Linked DNA regions of Homo sapiens: region 2 is linked to region 1. Evidence: fine-mapped expression QTL. A gene starts in region 1. The other region holds a variant in brackets. All regions are shown on one strand. Distances are from middle to middle.

Region 1 (8,350 bases):
TTTTCAATCTTGGTTTGAATGTCCTTTTGGAAGTGAAAAAAATTTTATAAGTATAAACATCAAATTGTGTCCCTATCTCAAGCTTCCCATTAAGGTTCCAAGTATTTTAGTGTATAAAGTGTATGCATTAATACTGTCAATACTTAAACTGCACGACTTCTTTTGTCTCTGTTATCTTGTCTATGATATACACAAAGAATTATATTTAGTACTTCCAAGAAGATCAAATTTTTGTCTTGATATCACTACAAATCCCTCCAGCGGCATCTAATTGGTGAATGAATCTTTGTAGCACTTATTAGTTTTCAAATCAATTAGATTGATCAATTAATTTAATTTGTTTATAATTGCTAATTGTTATTAGTTTATATTACAGATTGCATATCTGTGTCTCCTCTCCCAAAATACACATCTTAAAATTTTAATTCTCAATGGAATGGTATTAGGACATGGGGCCCTTGGGAGGTAATTAGGTTATGAGGGTGGGACCTCATGATGGGATTATTGTCCTCATAAGAAAAGTAACAGAACTAACTAGCCTTCTCTCTCTAGCATGTGAGGATACAAAAAGACAGATGTCTGTGAATTAAGTAGAGCAGCCATCCCCAACCTTTTTGGCACCAGGGACCAGTTTTGTGGAAGACAATTTTTCCATGGATGGAGAGGGGGATGCATTAGATTCTTGTAAAGATCACACAACCTAGATCCCTTGTATGCACAGTTTACAATAGGATTTGCGCTCCTATGAGAATTTAACGCCTCTGCTAATCTGACAGGATGAGGAGCTCAGGGGGAAATGTTGACTCCCCTGCCTCTCACCTCCTGCTGCACAGCCCAGGTCCTTACAGGCCATGGACTGGTACTGGTCCGCAGCCCCAGCGGGTGGGGACCCTTGACGTAGACAGCCTTCCCCGAACCTGACCATGCTGGCACCCTGCTTGTTGACTTCTAGCCTCCAGAACTGTGAGAAACAAATGTTTGTTGTTTAACCTATCCAATCTATGGTATTCTGTTACAGCAGCTCAAACTAAGATACTGGCAATGAGTTATAATCTGTGACAGTTGTGATGTTATGTTAAAGTTATCTTACGTTAAAAATTGTTATGTTAAAAGATGATAACAGAACAATCAGTTAAACCATGGTTTTAAACATTTTACTGTAACAAAATCCCCTCACTTATTATGGACCCAGTGAAGTTAAAAAATATATCTGATAGAATCATGGAAGTTTAGAACTGGAGGAAAATATAAAGCAGGGAAGGGAGAACAGGACATGCTGGGGTAAGAGCAATTTCAATTAAAGGACCCTCCCTTTAAAGAAGTGAAAACTAAATGTCAGAATAGAAAATGACTTGTCCGTTGTCAAAAAATTGATGCCAGAGTGAACCCTAGAATAGTGATTTCATACTGGCAGATACAGAGAACTAGGAAATAGATAAAATAGAAATTGTTTAATCTAATGTAAAAACTTACAGCTTAGTTACCTGGAATAGTTTTTCTTGGTGATTCAAAGTTATATTTACTTATGAATATGAACATAGATGATTCTACCGTAATCAGTTGTAACATCTCAGTTTTTGAACTTTGCCAATAGCAGATCAAATAGGAAAGAGAAGGAGAATTGGGCTTCGATCAAATTCAGAAGGAATGAAAACCAAGGTGGATAACAAAACTATGAGCTCATTTAGTAAGCACATGGTGACTTTTTTTATGTGCTAGTTGACATATGAGGCAAAAGCCAAACATGACACTTATTCCCAGTCTGACACATAATTTTAGGGCAAAAGAGAGATGTCAGAGATGGCATCTCTAGGAGTGTAAGATTCTATTGCATAGCCGTTTTCAAGGCTCTGAAGACTTTTTCTTTTATTTCCATATCCAGGAACATGTTAGAGTTGGTCGCATTTATTGGATATGTAAACACAAGGTGTGGTAAAATGACATAAAAACTTACTCTAAATCTCCCGGTGTATTTTAAATAACAATCATACTAGAGCCTTGCTAGACTTTGATCCCTACGCCTCATACTGAGTAACACTTTGTCCTACATCTATGGGTTAGCTTAGGTTCTGTGATTAGTTCTTCAGTTAAACTTAGAGGATAGACTTGATTTATAATGAACTTAACATCCAATTATTTAATGTTGCAGAAAAATCTAATGATTTGGTGTTTGATGCTCAATAGTCTCTAACAAATCTTAGCTTTTTAAAAATAACTCTTTGCCCTTCCTCTTCTATTTTCATAAATGTATGCATACATTTTTATTGATATAATTCAGATATTTTCTAGAAAAAAAACATGTTAGACATTTATTACCATCTCAAAAAGAAATAGACAGTCTTAGTAAGAAGAGAGTTTGCATCTTACCAGTGGGGATCTAGTTTCCATTGTGTAATACAACCATCAAAGGATCAGGGCAAGTAATGTGTTTTATGGTGTCTGGTTTGATAAGTTTCTTTATGGGAGTTAACAGTCACATCTCTTTCAGGATATAAACTCATTAAAGTCCAAGATTTTCCCGAAGCTCCTAAAGAGTTGTGAGCCTTCAATGTGCATTACTTGTAACCATCAGTGACTTAGTTATTTGTGTGTGTGTGTGTGTGTGTGTGTGTGTGTGTGTGTGTGCGCATGGGGGAGGGGTGTACTCAAAATTCTTTTGCAATCCTTTAATATCTCCTAGTTAAGAGAGTCATTCATTCATTCACTAAACACTTTTGAGTGCCTACTATGTATGATCTTGGAACTATCTAAGTACTAAGAATTCAACAGTATGTAAAATAGAAAAGGAAAATCCCTGCCTTCCCTATTGGGAAGACAAATGAAAAAAAAAAATGTAGTTTTTAAAAAGTGAAATATATAGCATGTTAAATGAGCAAAAAAATAAAAGTCAATAAAAAAATAAAACAGTGAAGGAAGACAGGGAGCTTTGTTTTGTTTTGTTTTATTTTGGCAGAGAAGTAGAGGTTGTAACTTTAAATCAGGTGGCCAAAGAAGCTAACAGGAGAAAATGACATTTAGGTAAACTCCTGAAGGAAGGGAGAGGGAAAACCATATGGATATTTGAGCAGAAAAGCTTTCCAATAGGGGAAACAGCAAGTGCAAAGGCCCTGCGGTGGGAACAATCCTGAGATGACTCAGGGAGTGGAGAGAAGGCTAGTGGAAGGTAACTTTAGAGAAGTAATACAGGCCTGATTCTGAAGGGCGTCCTCGGCCTTGGACCTAGAGGAATGGAAGCCATTAGACAACGCTGAAAAGACCTGACTTTGGTACACAGAAGTAAAGCAATCCTATTAAAATTACATATGTAATATTTATATAAAATTATATATGTAATATTACTTATATATGTAATATCTAAAATTTAAGCTAGTAAAAGGAATGGATTATCTGCCGGGTAACTGGAAACCTGCTTATGAGAGAGGTTAGAACTAAGGGACTAGAGATTCACAGACATGGGAATGAGTCTGGGAGAAGAATTCACAAAGAAAAAGAGTTTAAATCCTAGGGATCAGTGAATCATAGGGATCAGTCCAATGTGGAATTCTTCAGCCAGGGAAGGAAATGGAGAAACAGGCATCAAGGATGTAAGAATTCAATTTGAAATGATTGATTGCATCGCCCTCCCCATCAGGCAGAGCATGAAGAACATGAATGATCCCACTGAAGCAGGGCGGGCAGCTGGGATTCTCTCACAGTGGGAATGAACATTAGAAATGGTGTAAGTTCAAACAGCCCCAATCCTATGCTGTGGATAACTGGATATCCCTAGGGAAACAGACCACAGAAAATAATAATCATGGGGAAGTACATCCTAAGACACAACACCTAACACCAGCCCAGGACAAAGGCACCATAAAAATTCCATGAGCGAGGGTCTGTTTACTTTCTCAGAGTAAATGTTAGTAACATGAACTATACATTTATAATGTTTTAAGGTTTAGAAGCCACTTTACGTCTGACTATATCTGATTAAAGATCGTAGTCGTTGGACTGGGCAGATGCAAACTAGAAAATCACCATTAAGGTGAAATGTGTCCATGTCTGTCTGTCACTCGCTGTCTGTATCATTTCCGGGGCCATGAAGATGTGGCTTTAACCAGAAGTATTTGAGATATGCCTCTTTCTTAGGAAAGCTATGGCCTTTCTAACTGCCTGAGAGGGCTATGAAGAAGAGGAGGGGTGGCAGATTCACCCATGGGAGCTGAACACCCAAAGCAAGAAAATCAGGGGCTCTGGGAAAGGAAGTGAGTCAAGACAAGCAAGAGAGAAGGATGAGAGCGAGCACCTCCAGGATCTGGTTTACCAGAGAAGACAAGCTGCGAGGAGGCCACTAAACTTCTGCCCTGGCACAGTTTGCTGCAGGGAGGCAGCCCCAGAACTAGTGGTGAGGTCGAGGGGCTAGGCCAGGGGAGGGACGGACAGGCAGAGGTCCCTTACTCTTTCGATTTATCCGATCCGTGCGCCGAGTTGATACGATGCACCTCTTTCTTTTTGGTTTGTTTGGAGGCCATGGCAGAAGCCGATCTATGTAGGGCTGAGCTCTGAGCAAAGAGCCTGCGGGCGCGCTCGGCTCCGCGTCTGCGTTGCCAGGAGACGGCGTCCCGCGTCCAGCGCCCGGAGAGCGGGGGCGGGGCCCTGGGGGCGGGCTCTGCGGCCTGTGGCTGCAGAGGGACGCAAGAGCATAAACTGAAATCCCACATCCCCGTGGAGGAACTTGGAGTTGGTGTCTGGGGAGAAATCGAGGTTCTGGGGCACGGGTTTGGCATTAGGATTACTGGGCAGCCCTGATTAATTGGAGTTCTGCAGGACCTACACTGCCTGGCTTTGCCCTTCGGAACCATAGACATATATCGACTCTTGAATATCCAACTATTTGAACGTAGATGTTATCCTAGTACCACCCCAGTTATTCTCTTGGCTAAATATAACAAGTACCTTCAATAATTACTAAGGAGACATTACAGACACGCTGAAATTGTCAATGGCTTGAAAACCTGGGGTCCAGAAATTAACACAGTGGGTGTAAGGAAGGCAAAATAATGACACCTTGAGTCGCTGAGGGCTAGGTGATGATATCTGTAATAAAACCAATAAGGTGTCTTGTTGTTCGAATGAAAGAGTGAGTCCAAGTCATGGGCTCAGGTGGTCCTTTGCAGACTTTCCAGAAAAGGTCCAGGGGCCAGATGACACAGACAGAACCAAGTAAAATGAAACTTATTAGGGCGCAGGCTTAAGGCTCAGTCATCAGTGGTGATTTGTTAGTTATCTTGCCTTGGGCTAGTTTTTCCCTTTGAGTCTCAGTTTACTCACTTATAAATAGGAGATGCCTATTACTCACTTATAAATAGGAGTTATACCTAACTCACAGTTCTGTTTTGAGGATAAGATGCAAAGCGCAGCAAATAGGAGCCACTCTTTCAGAGATGACAGACCACCTGGTTTCGAGGAGCAGCAGACAGCGTGAATGAATGAAGTTGGCCAGGTAAATACAGAGTAGTGGATACTATGCTTAACTGAGACATGCTTAGACTGCAAGAGCTTGCAAATTTATCAAAACAAAACAAAATATTGTGTTGGTTCAATATAACCTCACTTCAGAGATATCTGACACACAGCCCTTAGGCCTAGGACCACTACTACTGGTTGGTGTCTTTCATGAGCCTAGAAATAGTTAAGTATCTTTAAATAAAAGAAATCCCCTCCACTCATGGGACTGGGCACATGCTCACAGTTCCACCTGTGCAGGCAAGAGGCAGCTTCCTGCAGAGAAAATCTTTCAACTTCTCTGACAAATGAATGCTCAGGGCTCTCCACTCAGCATAGCCTATGGTTTGTCAGACTATCCCAATCTTATTACTATTGGATTACTACTGGGGGTTACCTAGATGACAGACAGCCCCTTCGTTGTATTTCTATATGCAAAATAAATAAATTCCAAGTCAGCAGTGTTAATATTATGACTACAAGACTGCCCTGCAAACATCTCCTATATATGTAAAGACAATGAACACATCATGAAGATTCTGCTTTGTTTATACCATAATTCAAATTTCCAGAGAACTCTCTTGAATGAAAGTAGAGGACTAAATGGTGAGAAAAATTATTTACTACCAAATTTTGTCAGAGTAATCAAATTTATAGCTATAAGTATATACAAAGACTCTTGGCTGAAAACAGCACAACTTTAAGCAGCCAACCCCACAGAGAGGTGAGTTTCTTCTTGAACAAGGGCTATCCTGCAGCCATTGTTAATGGCTGCAAGATGCCAAAAGAATTAGGGAAGATAAGCCTTAGAAATCAAAAGATCTACATCCCACCGGTATTTTATGGACAAATAACTCCAGGCGAAGACAAGCAAAATGTCTTGCCAAAAGTTGCTGGGTTATTTATTGATGGAATTTGGACTAAACACATTAAAGTCAGCATTGCCAGTTTAAGCCAAACATATCACTACTCCACTCAGAGCTTGCTTTTTAAACATCTATTAAATTAGGATAAAGTAAGGGGGTTGTCACCAGAATGGAATAAGATAATCATAAAAGATGTGACGAGTATAAGTTGCCTATTAATTCCTACGCCAGTGTTCTTTCTCCTTTATTATATTAAGAGTGCAACATGCATAAATGGAATTTCTCTTCTTTCTGGAGCTAAGGTTCTGGTCAGGCTGTAATTATAAGAGCAAATCTGTTCCTCTCTAAGATAGTTCTAGCTACAAAGCTTAACATGATATTTATTGTGGCAGTGCAAAAAAGACAATAGGTCCTACTGCTGTTTTTATTTTTCTTATAACTGTTGTCAATGTCACTTTGGAATAATAATAATAATAGCTGTGATTTATTGAGTACCTACTACATGCAAGGTTTAGGGAAGGGTGCTAACTCCTTTAGAGATAAACTTGAATTTAAATCCTGACTCTTGTTGGGTAATTATGGGTGAGTTATTTAACTTCCATTTTCTTTATTTGTGGAAAGGGAAGAATAATACCTCAAATATGCTTGACTCATCCCAAGCATTCAGAGAATTATAGCTAATGTTATTATTCCACAGGTAAAGAACTGAAATGCAGACAGGAAATGGGACTTGCCTGACATGGAGCAGGTGGTAGGTGGCAGAGGAAGATTGGCCACTCCATAACCTGTGCTCTCTCCAATTCTCTGGACTAACTGTCCATACAGATGATTGCCCTGGGACTGAGCTTAGGGATTTCCAAACTCTTGCTATTTAACAACTGTCAAAGACTGAGAAACAGGGCTTATATTTTATTCAAGCTACCCAGAATAGGGCCTCTCTCTAATCTATACTTCCTTTTCGGGGAAGAGATATTTGGCTTCAGGCAGCAGTAGCGCCTGCTCCCTAGGGAAGTGGTTAGAGGTACCCACTTCCCCATATCAGCAGAAACAAAACAGGCAGGAGTCTCTCTGCTTGAGGATCTGCCTAAATAGGGAAGTGAGAATTGGCAACCACTTCTCCCTCCACCAATGGGAATCCTAGATGGAGGGAACTGGGTGGGAGATGGCAGGGGTGGGCAGAGTGGCAGCATTTCTGTTTCTTAAATCCATAACTCCATCTTCAGACACTTGATTCCACAGCCATAGGGAATTGTATATATTTTGCTGCTCAGCTACCTCTTTGCAATTAGGTCAATTATAAAATTACTTGGAATTTAACCAGCCAAATGAGAAAGTATGCATTCTACATGTTCTGTGTAAGGTTGAATTTAACTGTCACTTCAAGTTCTGTTCTTTTCACATTTCCATGGAAATTTACACCCTTCTCCTTTATTTCCCACAGAACTTTATTTGTTCATCTTTTAAAATTCCTATAATATTCTGTCTTGTTTTTATTAATACTTATGCCTTGTTTTTTCTCCTTTACTAGACTGTAGGGTCACTCAAAGCAAAAACTCCTCTTCTACCAAATTCATTCACACTTTTGAAGCTCCTAAACCCTTAATAATAAGAGCTTACATTTGTTGAGCACTTGCTATGTGCTTGACCCTCTTCTAAGCTATTTTTCTGTATTAATTCACTTAATCCTTACAAACACCCTAGGGATTTGCTATTATAATCTCTCTTTTATAAATAGGAACATAGGCAAAGAGTGGCTAAATTAAGTTAGTAAGTGATCAGGCATGATTCAAACTCATGGCTCTAGACCCATGCTCTTTATAACCACATTATTCTGCCTCTGACACCTTCAGTGATCACAACCCTATGAAGTATGAAACTCTGCCCATTTTATAGCGAAGAAAATGAGCTTTAGAAAGGCAAAGCAACTTGCCCAAAGTCCAAAGCACAGGGGGAATGGAGTCAAAATGCATAGGTGAACACTTTGGTTTCAGAGTGCAGGC
Region 2 (8,350 bases), 170 kb before region 1:
TAGTAACTGAATTTTTCTATATATGTAATTTTTCTATGTATGGAGTAACTGATGTGTGAAATACATCATGCACTTCAAATCAGAGCAGGTAGATTTTAAGTTGTATATATAATTGATACATAGCAGCTGACATATAGACATGCTTTAATCAAATTGACTAAATATTTATAAACATGACATTAAAGACTTAATTATTCTGAATTTGAAAGCTGCTTGACTTTCAAGAAGATTGCCCAACAAAATATTCTTTCAAACAGAAAATTTTCCTACTTCATTTTAAATACAATTTAATTCTGAATTTCTTTGCTGCTTTTCAGCAACAAACATACTATGTAATCCAAAGTGTAATTTAATTTTAGCAGCTGGTCATTCACACATAAAATTTTCAAATGTGATATCAGGAAAGAAAACGTAATTATTTTCTGAAGACTTATTTTTTCTTTGGAATACATGATAATACCATTTTGTTGAGTGTTCACTCATATTATTAATTTTGTACCATTACCCAATTCTACATATTTACATTATTGTATTTCATGAATTAAACTACTGTGTTCATTTCAGATATTAATGTTTTTATCTAGTTTTCCACTAGAATCTTAATAGTTACCCATTAACAGGGAAAAACAATATGGGTCATATATATCTGACAGACGTCTTTATATTACTTTTGTGTTCACTAAAGTAATATAGATAAAGACATCTCTCAGAGACACTGTAAAGATATGAAGCCAGTACTACTGTATATTATTACTTTTCTCCATTCAAAGCCCTAGATGGAGTTTAATTTCCATTAGATTCTCAGCTGTGCCAGTCACTAGCTGTGTGACTGAGAGCAAGTTTCTTAAACTGTCTGTATCCCAGTTCCCTCATCTGTAAAATGACAATGCTGTAGTAATAACACCTACCTCATAAGTTTATTGGGAAGATTAATTGGGTCAATATATGTAAAGCCCTTCTTGGACATAAATGTTAGCAGTTACTACCAGTACCATCAATATCACCACTACCACCAGTACTATTATGACAATACAACTTGTTAGAGTATCTAAAGAGCTTACATGATATGGTGGAAGATTCTGGGCTTTGGAATAAATCAGACTTATGTTAGAACCTTCACTCTGCTCCTTCGAACCTATGCAAACTTAGGCAAATTATTCATAGCATCTAAGGCTCATTTCTTCATCTGTAAAACTGGGATGGTAATAACTACTTCCCAAAGTTTTTGTGAGAATTAAGAAGAATGCATGAAAACTACTAAGTTGAGTAAGATGGACATAATAGCACTCAATTATAATTAGAGTGATTAAACTTCTAGGTCTCTCCAGAGTTTTTCTTGTTTAAAAATTAAAAAGTACCATATTTTTTCCTGATTAAAATTGTATGTGCTCATTTAAAACTTCCCATTTATATATTTTTCATTAAAACTTGTTTCTAGATATAAAATACAAGTGATAAAGTAAAATTACTAATAATTTCAACATCCAGAACTAATTACTTTAATTGGTATGTACGATCTTTTTTTTTTCTCTATGTATGCCTTTTCTTCTTCTACGCATTTATGTATTTTTGAAGAGAGGTGGTAATTTAGGGTCACTAATGTCTAACGTTATGAAGTCTTAATATTAATAATTATGAATTTCTGTGACCTAAAGTGAGAGGAAACATTTCTGAATCTTTCCTCCCCACCATTTCTGATGTGGAAGGAAATGGGAATGGCCTTGAATAGTGAGCTATGTGCAGATACTCTCCTTGTTGCTCTGTCCCTCATGTTGTGCTCTCTGGCAGGAATCAGTCCCTCTTTAGGCACACGTGATGCCCAGTAAGTGCTCCTGTGAGTGATGTGAGTCCAGCACTGGCTCCTGCGTATAGCCTGAGACACATTCTCCTTCCCGCTACTTCTACTTCCAAAGCAAAGCTTTATTTCTCATGCTTGGTATCCTTCAAGACTTTCTTGTATAATACAAACTATTTTACCCTCACTTCCTCCACACATTTCAAGGTGTCATTTTTTTTTCTAAATATCCCAAATTTACAAAATTTTACATAACACACTCAACATATAAGTACTGAAACCAAATTTCTAGTTATCACAGAAAATATACACAGGTATTTAAATTATGTATATATTGTTTTATATATAATAAATAAATTTAGGCAAATATATTTCATATGATATAAATATAATATATAATATATATTATATAATTACATATTAATATAGGAAAAAACCATAATACAGCCCTCTATCAGAGACACAAATAAAGACGTGAAACCAGTACTACTGTATATTATTATTTTCCCCATTCAAATGCCCTTGATGGAATTTAATTTCCATTAGAATTCCCAGCTGTGCCAGCAACCAGCTGTGTGATATATATATATAATAAATATAATATATATATTTAACTAAATTTAATAGTATTGAGATATTTTTCTTTTGCACCATATTAGACATTAGTTTACTTTAGAGAATTGGGAGAAAGCAATTCTAGTCAATAGCATTGTACTATGTGATGCTATTTTTCCCTGAAAAGCTTAAAATTTTTTCACAAATACCTCTTCATGATTGCACATTTTTATGAATCTCATTTAAACATTATTCAGAAACAGGTTTTCCTTGTGAGCAAGATCTTCAATTGAATTCAGCAAGGTTGCTCTGTAGTTTTCCTTTTATGATTTATGATGAGATTATTTGTTTTCTGTCATATGGATCTGGGTTTATAATTTATAATTGCTATAAACAACAGTAGCATGACTATTTTGAGCTTATTGAGACAGGTATAACACGCTATTATAATACAGAAATCAGAATTATAAAGAGTTACAGGCAACTCATGAAAAAGCCCACACTGTCCAAAACAAAAAGCAAAACAAAACAAATCAGAACTGGCTGTCATTCTCTGATCCATTGAAATTCTTAATCCTCAGAAATGTAATGTAAAATCTACCAGTCCTATAACTTGAAGAACAAAGTGGAAATGAGAATAGCTTTGGTGAACACACAAGCTCATACAAAACTGTGCTGTTTCTTTATTCTTTGATTTCTATAATTGTGAATATTTTATTTGCACTTAAATCTTTAGCATAAAATATTTAATTCCACTGGTATTAGGCATATACTCTATCTACTTCTTTGCAGTAGGGGAACACAAAATTACCACATGATTTGTACCATCCATTATTTCAAACAGGTTTCTGTTAATTGATAGAGAAAAAGAAGACAGAGAATGGTGGGGGCCAGGGGCCAGGGGCGGGGGCACGGTATGAGCTAAGAGATTTTGCTTTGAACCACAGGGGAAGTAGGAATAGGGTAATGGTTACTTTAAGCGAGAACAAAAGTGGCAACCTGACGGGAAAAACATATAGAGAAAGAGAA[T/C]ATGGTAACATGCAAAGAGAAATAAACATAAACAACTGATTTTTTTTTTTCATTTATTTTCCATTAGAACTTGGTGGGTGTGGGTGGTCAACTGCAAAATAATCAAAGGGCTCAAATTCACAGCAGTAGATAATCCATAACACAGGGTTAGGCAACATTAGGTGGGTCCAGGAAACCTTCACAGCTGAAGACCCAGAGAAGGGAACTGGGCCGGAAACACAGCATCCGGGAACAAGCTGCAAGGAAGTGATTGCCAAAGCCAACCGCCTGTGCAACCACAACAAGGGAATCAACAGGCGTATTCGGGCGTATTCGGCTTGAGACGTGGCCTGCAAGGTATTTGCGGCTTTCATATGACATTTACTCACAGAATAATTGTGTTCTCTTCTAGTAGGCAAGAATATGAGATCGAAGCCTTGTCTGCTGTTTCAGACATTCTCAGTGTGCTGGGCTGTTAGGGGTGTTGGCTTTAGGAGGGGAGGTTGAAGTAGAATGGGCAGATGTTTTGGCAAAATTCATATTCCATGACTATCCAGGGAATGTGCGAAAGTGTTTTTATGTATAACACTATGGAGCAGTAGCACAGCCACTCGTTCAAAAAACAAGGTTTGAACACCCCATTGTCTGCTCTGGAGTTATCCACATACCACACACGAACAGCAAAGAGGCGGCGACTCTGTGGCCCCAGTGCTACCACTTTCTCTTCCTGTGTCTACGTGGAATATTGATAAAACATCACAAAACTTTCTCGTTGAGCCTGAACACAGCCTCAGAATCTTGCCCACACAGCAGGCCAGGATGCCATTAGGATTTACACATACCTGAGGTCACTGGTGTGGCATGTTCATGCATTCATTCATTAAACACTTATTGACATCTCCCACTAGTGCTAGAGATGCAATGATGAGACCGAGGAAGAACACATCCCTGCCCAATGAGAGAGGAACCTCAGAAGAGGCCGCACAGTGCGATGCCGTTGGAATTTCGGCAGTGTGATGCGTTGCTATGGAAGCACACTCAATACATTTGAGTGGAAATGGGAACTCTTGGTGTCATACATTTTTATAGCTTTTCTTTGAATTTTAAGACACATACTAGAATCTATACCTTCTAATAAAGTAAGCCTGGCAATAACAGTTTTCTCTTAACTTCTGTACACACAAACCTTTTTAAGCTCTTTCTTGATCAGGTCCAGGCAGATAATAGAAGCAAGCAAACGCCTGAACAGAGTTGTTGGCAATTAATAAATAAGGGTAATAATAATAGGAATAGCTTACATGTATCCTTCCATTTACTCATTCAGCTAATATTGTGGGGTGCTTACTGTTCATATGGGATCTAACTAGGGATAATGCAAGGGACGAAACAGGTGAAAATGGACAAAACTCCTCATTCTTCAGGGGCTTGCATTCTAATAGAGGAATATAAATAATAGATAAAATTTACTGTTTCTTAGAGGACGAAAAGGACTAAGAGTTTACGTCTTATCATAAGCGTGTTGTATGTATACTAAAAATTCTGAATGATGACAAAGCCCACTTCGGTGGTGGCTACCATCAAGTGTTTGAACTCAGGTTAATGGGACCCAGGAAGAAATGGAGGCTTTTACATTTTATGTTATACCCTTTTGTATTGCATGGGTTTATTTTATTTTAAAAATAACATGCATATATTATTTTATGATTAGGCAATCTAGCTTAAATTTGAAAGAGAACATAAATAGAAAATACACATTCTTTCAGATTCAATTATTAGATTGCCCAATGGGATATAAAGCTGTTGGAGATTTCCCTTTGATTCTCTTTTTTGAAAGCAACAAGCTTCCTGGCCAGGAATACTAGAGTAGTTTATATTTTGAAAAAATAAACCAGAGTACTCTTTCACTAGAAAATTATTCTTCTGGAATTGAAGAATTTGTGAAATATTTTAAAAGCTTGTATTTAATGCTATATATTCTCAAAAAATATGGGCAAATATAATTTTATAAATAGAAAAATGTCATACATTTTTGAAATGTTCAAAAGTATAATCAATTAGTAATTTTTATTAACTAGACAAAATGTGCTTACATTACATCTAACTAATCATATTTTTTCCTTATAAAACAGGCAGTAAAAATATTGAAACATATAATCAATTAACACAACAGGAAATGTAACAGGATATAGAGTACAAATTATAATGTGTAATAAAACATCATACAATGATATTTTCATGACTAAATCAATTTATTATTAAATATTTAAATATCAACTTATTCAAATGTAAAGTGCATGTTTAAACATTTAGGGTGACATACCTTTGGTATTACTTTTCTTTAAGTCTTTCAGTGCTTGAACAAATGTCAGCTGGCTTTCAGTGAGAGGCCAACTGTTATACAACACCGAACACTGTATAATATACTTGTAATTCTGTGAAATAAAATGCAGTGTTTAAAAATGATAAGAACATACATGGTATGTGCCTAATGTCATTTATTATGCTAGGTACATGATAAATGCAGAATTTTCCAGATCAGACAGTCATAATTTAGTTAAATCATGCTGGATGTTCTCCAAAACTCTGTAACGCTACACTTTATAAAAGTTTAATAGCCCCACATCCCCACCAACACCTGCCACTACCCAACTTTATAATTTTTGTGAGTGCAGTGGGTATAAAGTGAAATCTCACTGCTATTGTATTTTGCATTTTTAAGATTACTATAAAGTTTGAGTATTTTTTCAAAGCTGTTGGCCTTTAGGGTTTTCTCTTCTTTGTGATCATGACACAGAAAAAAATAGTCTCCTACATTATCTATTATTATATTTAGGGATTAAAATTTTACAATTAAATGTTCACTATATCTGGAATTCACCTTTATGTATGATGTTAGCTAGTGATCTAGTTTTATTTCTCTCCATGGAGATGTAATTTTCCTAGTACAACCTACTCAATAGTCCATCTTTTCTTCATTGGTTTATGGTGTTGCCTCTATTCTATATGAAATTTTCATAAAAATATGGATCTGTTTCTATCTTACTTTCTCTTATTGTTCCATTTACCTATGTATGCATTAATTAATACTATTTTTACTGCTATATCTTTTTGTCTTTGGAAATACTAAGACACACTTTGCTCTTTTTTCCCCAAGTTCCGTTAGCTATTTGTGAATTGCTATTCATTCCTATGAATTTTAAAGTATCTTTAGAAAATTTCAGAAAAATACAGTGGGAATTTTGATTGGGATTGCATTGAATTTAAAGGCAGATTGAGGATAACATATCTTTATACTGTTATGCCATCTTGCTGAAAAGCATGAAATGCTTCTCTATTTATTCAAGTCATCTGTGTCCATCAGTGGATTGGGTTACTTTCTGTAGCCTTTATTCAAGTGTTAAGCTTTTCTATGTGGAAAACTGATATATTTTTGGTTAATTCCTGGGTGTTTTCTGATTTTGTTGCTGCTATTATTAAAGGCATCATATTCTGATGTCTAATGCATAGTGCCGGTGTAGAGGAACACTACTGATTTTTGTTTAAGTTGTAGTAGCAGAACAGCATTGTGATTAAGGGCATGACCTCATGAGCTAGAGCTGTCTGGGTTGAAGTCCTGCTTTAGCACAAACCAGCTGTTTGGCCTTGAGGAAGTCACTTAAGCTTCCTGTCCTCCAGGTTCCTTGACTGTGAAATACAGATAATAAGAATACTTACTTCAAGAGGCTGAGGTGGGTGGGTCACCTGAGGTCAGGGGTTTGAGACCAGCCTGGCCAACATGGTAGAGAACCCCTTTGTCTACTAAAAATACAAAAAATATTAGCCGGGTGTGGGGGCATGTGCCTATAATCCCAGCTACTCCAGAGGCTGAGACGAGAGAATCACTTGAACCCCGTAGGTGGAGATTGCAGTGAGCTGAGATCACGCCATTGCCTGGACAATGGAGTGAGACTCTGTCTCAAAAAAGAAAAAGAAAAAAGTTGATGGGGAGAATTCAAGATCTATGTGTGAAGCACATAGTATCAGGTGCATAGTAAGTAATAAGTAAGTCAATATATTAGTTATTACTATTAATGTCTTTGGCAATCTTGCCAAAATCTCTTAGTTCTAAAGTTTGTTTATTCTGTTGTTTTTTCTTGGGCATATGATTATATTATCTGTGAGTAATTCAATGATTATTTAGAATAATCTTTTAATTATTTTGTTCTTTGTATCATTGTGGCTTTCCATTATCATAATAGTTCAGTATCATTAAATACTAACAATTATAGCAAGCATTCTTTTCTTATTCCAATTTTAATAGGAACACACTTACACTTCCCACATTAGTATAATGGTTTTGTATATGAGATTTGGCCATTAAGTGTAAAATTTTTGGCATGTAACATTTATGATGAAGAAGTTCTCTCCTATGCCTAGTTTGCTAAGAGCACATTTTAGAAATCCATAAATAGGTGTTAAACTTTGTCAAATGTTTCAGGATTATATGATTGTTCTCATCTAGTGTATTACTGTAGTGACTAATACTGATAGATTTTCCAATGGTAAAAGATTTCTGAATTTCTGAGAAGAATTCTGTCTGATTGCTTAATACACTGCTAGAATTGGATATCTATTATGTTATTTGCAATTTATCACCTATGTTTATAAATACATTTTATTCCTTTTTGTGTTACCTTTATCTGGTTTTGAAATCAGGATTACATTAATTTCTTAAAAAGGATTGAAAAGTTATATTGTTTGTTTTCCGTAAGAAATTACTTTTTAAAAGTCTATTGGACCTATCCTATAAAGCCAAAAGGGGGCCTATGGTTTTTTGGAAAGGGAAGACTTAGAGGACTTTGAATTATCGTTTCAATTTTATTATTCTTTACTGTTTTATTCAGATTTTCTATTTTCTTGTGAATCAACTCTGCGATTTCTCCTCTCCCCCACCCTCAGGAAGTTATGTGTTTCCCCCTCACCCCCAGGTTTAATTTAGTTTAATTTAATTTA

The links. PIP is the estimated chance that this variant, and not a neighbour inherited with it, causes the effect.
Region 2: its variant is the best candidate, but not a certain one, in a credible set for the expression of ADGB in testis (GTEx, PIP 0.61).

The regions. Positions count from the first base shown.
Region 1 is chr6:146,595,202-146,603,551 of GRCh38, reverse strand. It overlaps ADGB (androglobin), which reads right to left and starts at 4,580. Exons shown (of 36, transcript NM_024694.4): 1 at 4,438-4,580. The coding sequence starts at 4,511. It overlaps ADGB-DT (ADGB divergent transcript), which reads left to right and starts at 4,621. Exons shown (of 3, transcript NR_125860.1): 1 at 4,621-4,719; 2 at 5,381-5,482; 3 at 7,048-8,350. RefSeq lists a silencer at 4,485-4,779.
Region 2 is chr6:146,766,460-146,774,809 of GRCh38, reverse strand. ADGB (androglobin) reads right to left here. Exons shown (of 36, transcript NM_024694.4): 29 at 5,679-5,790. LOC105378040 (a long non-coding RNA gene) reads left to right here and starts at 3,657. Exons shown (of 4, transcript XR_943093.2): 1 at 3,657-3,715. The variant T/C (reference allele first, on the strand shown) is at 3,380.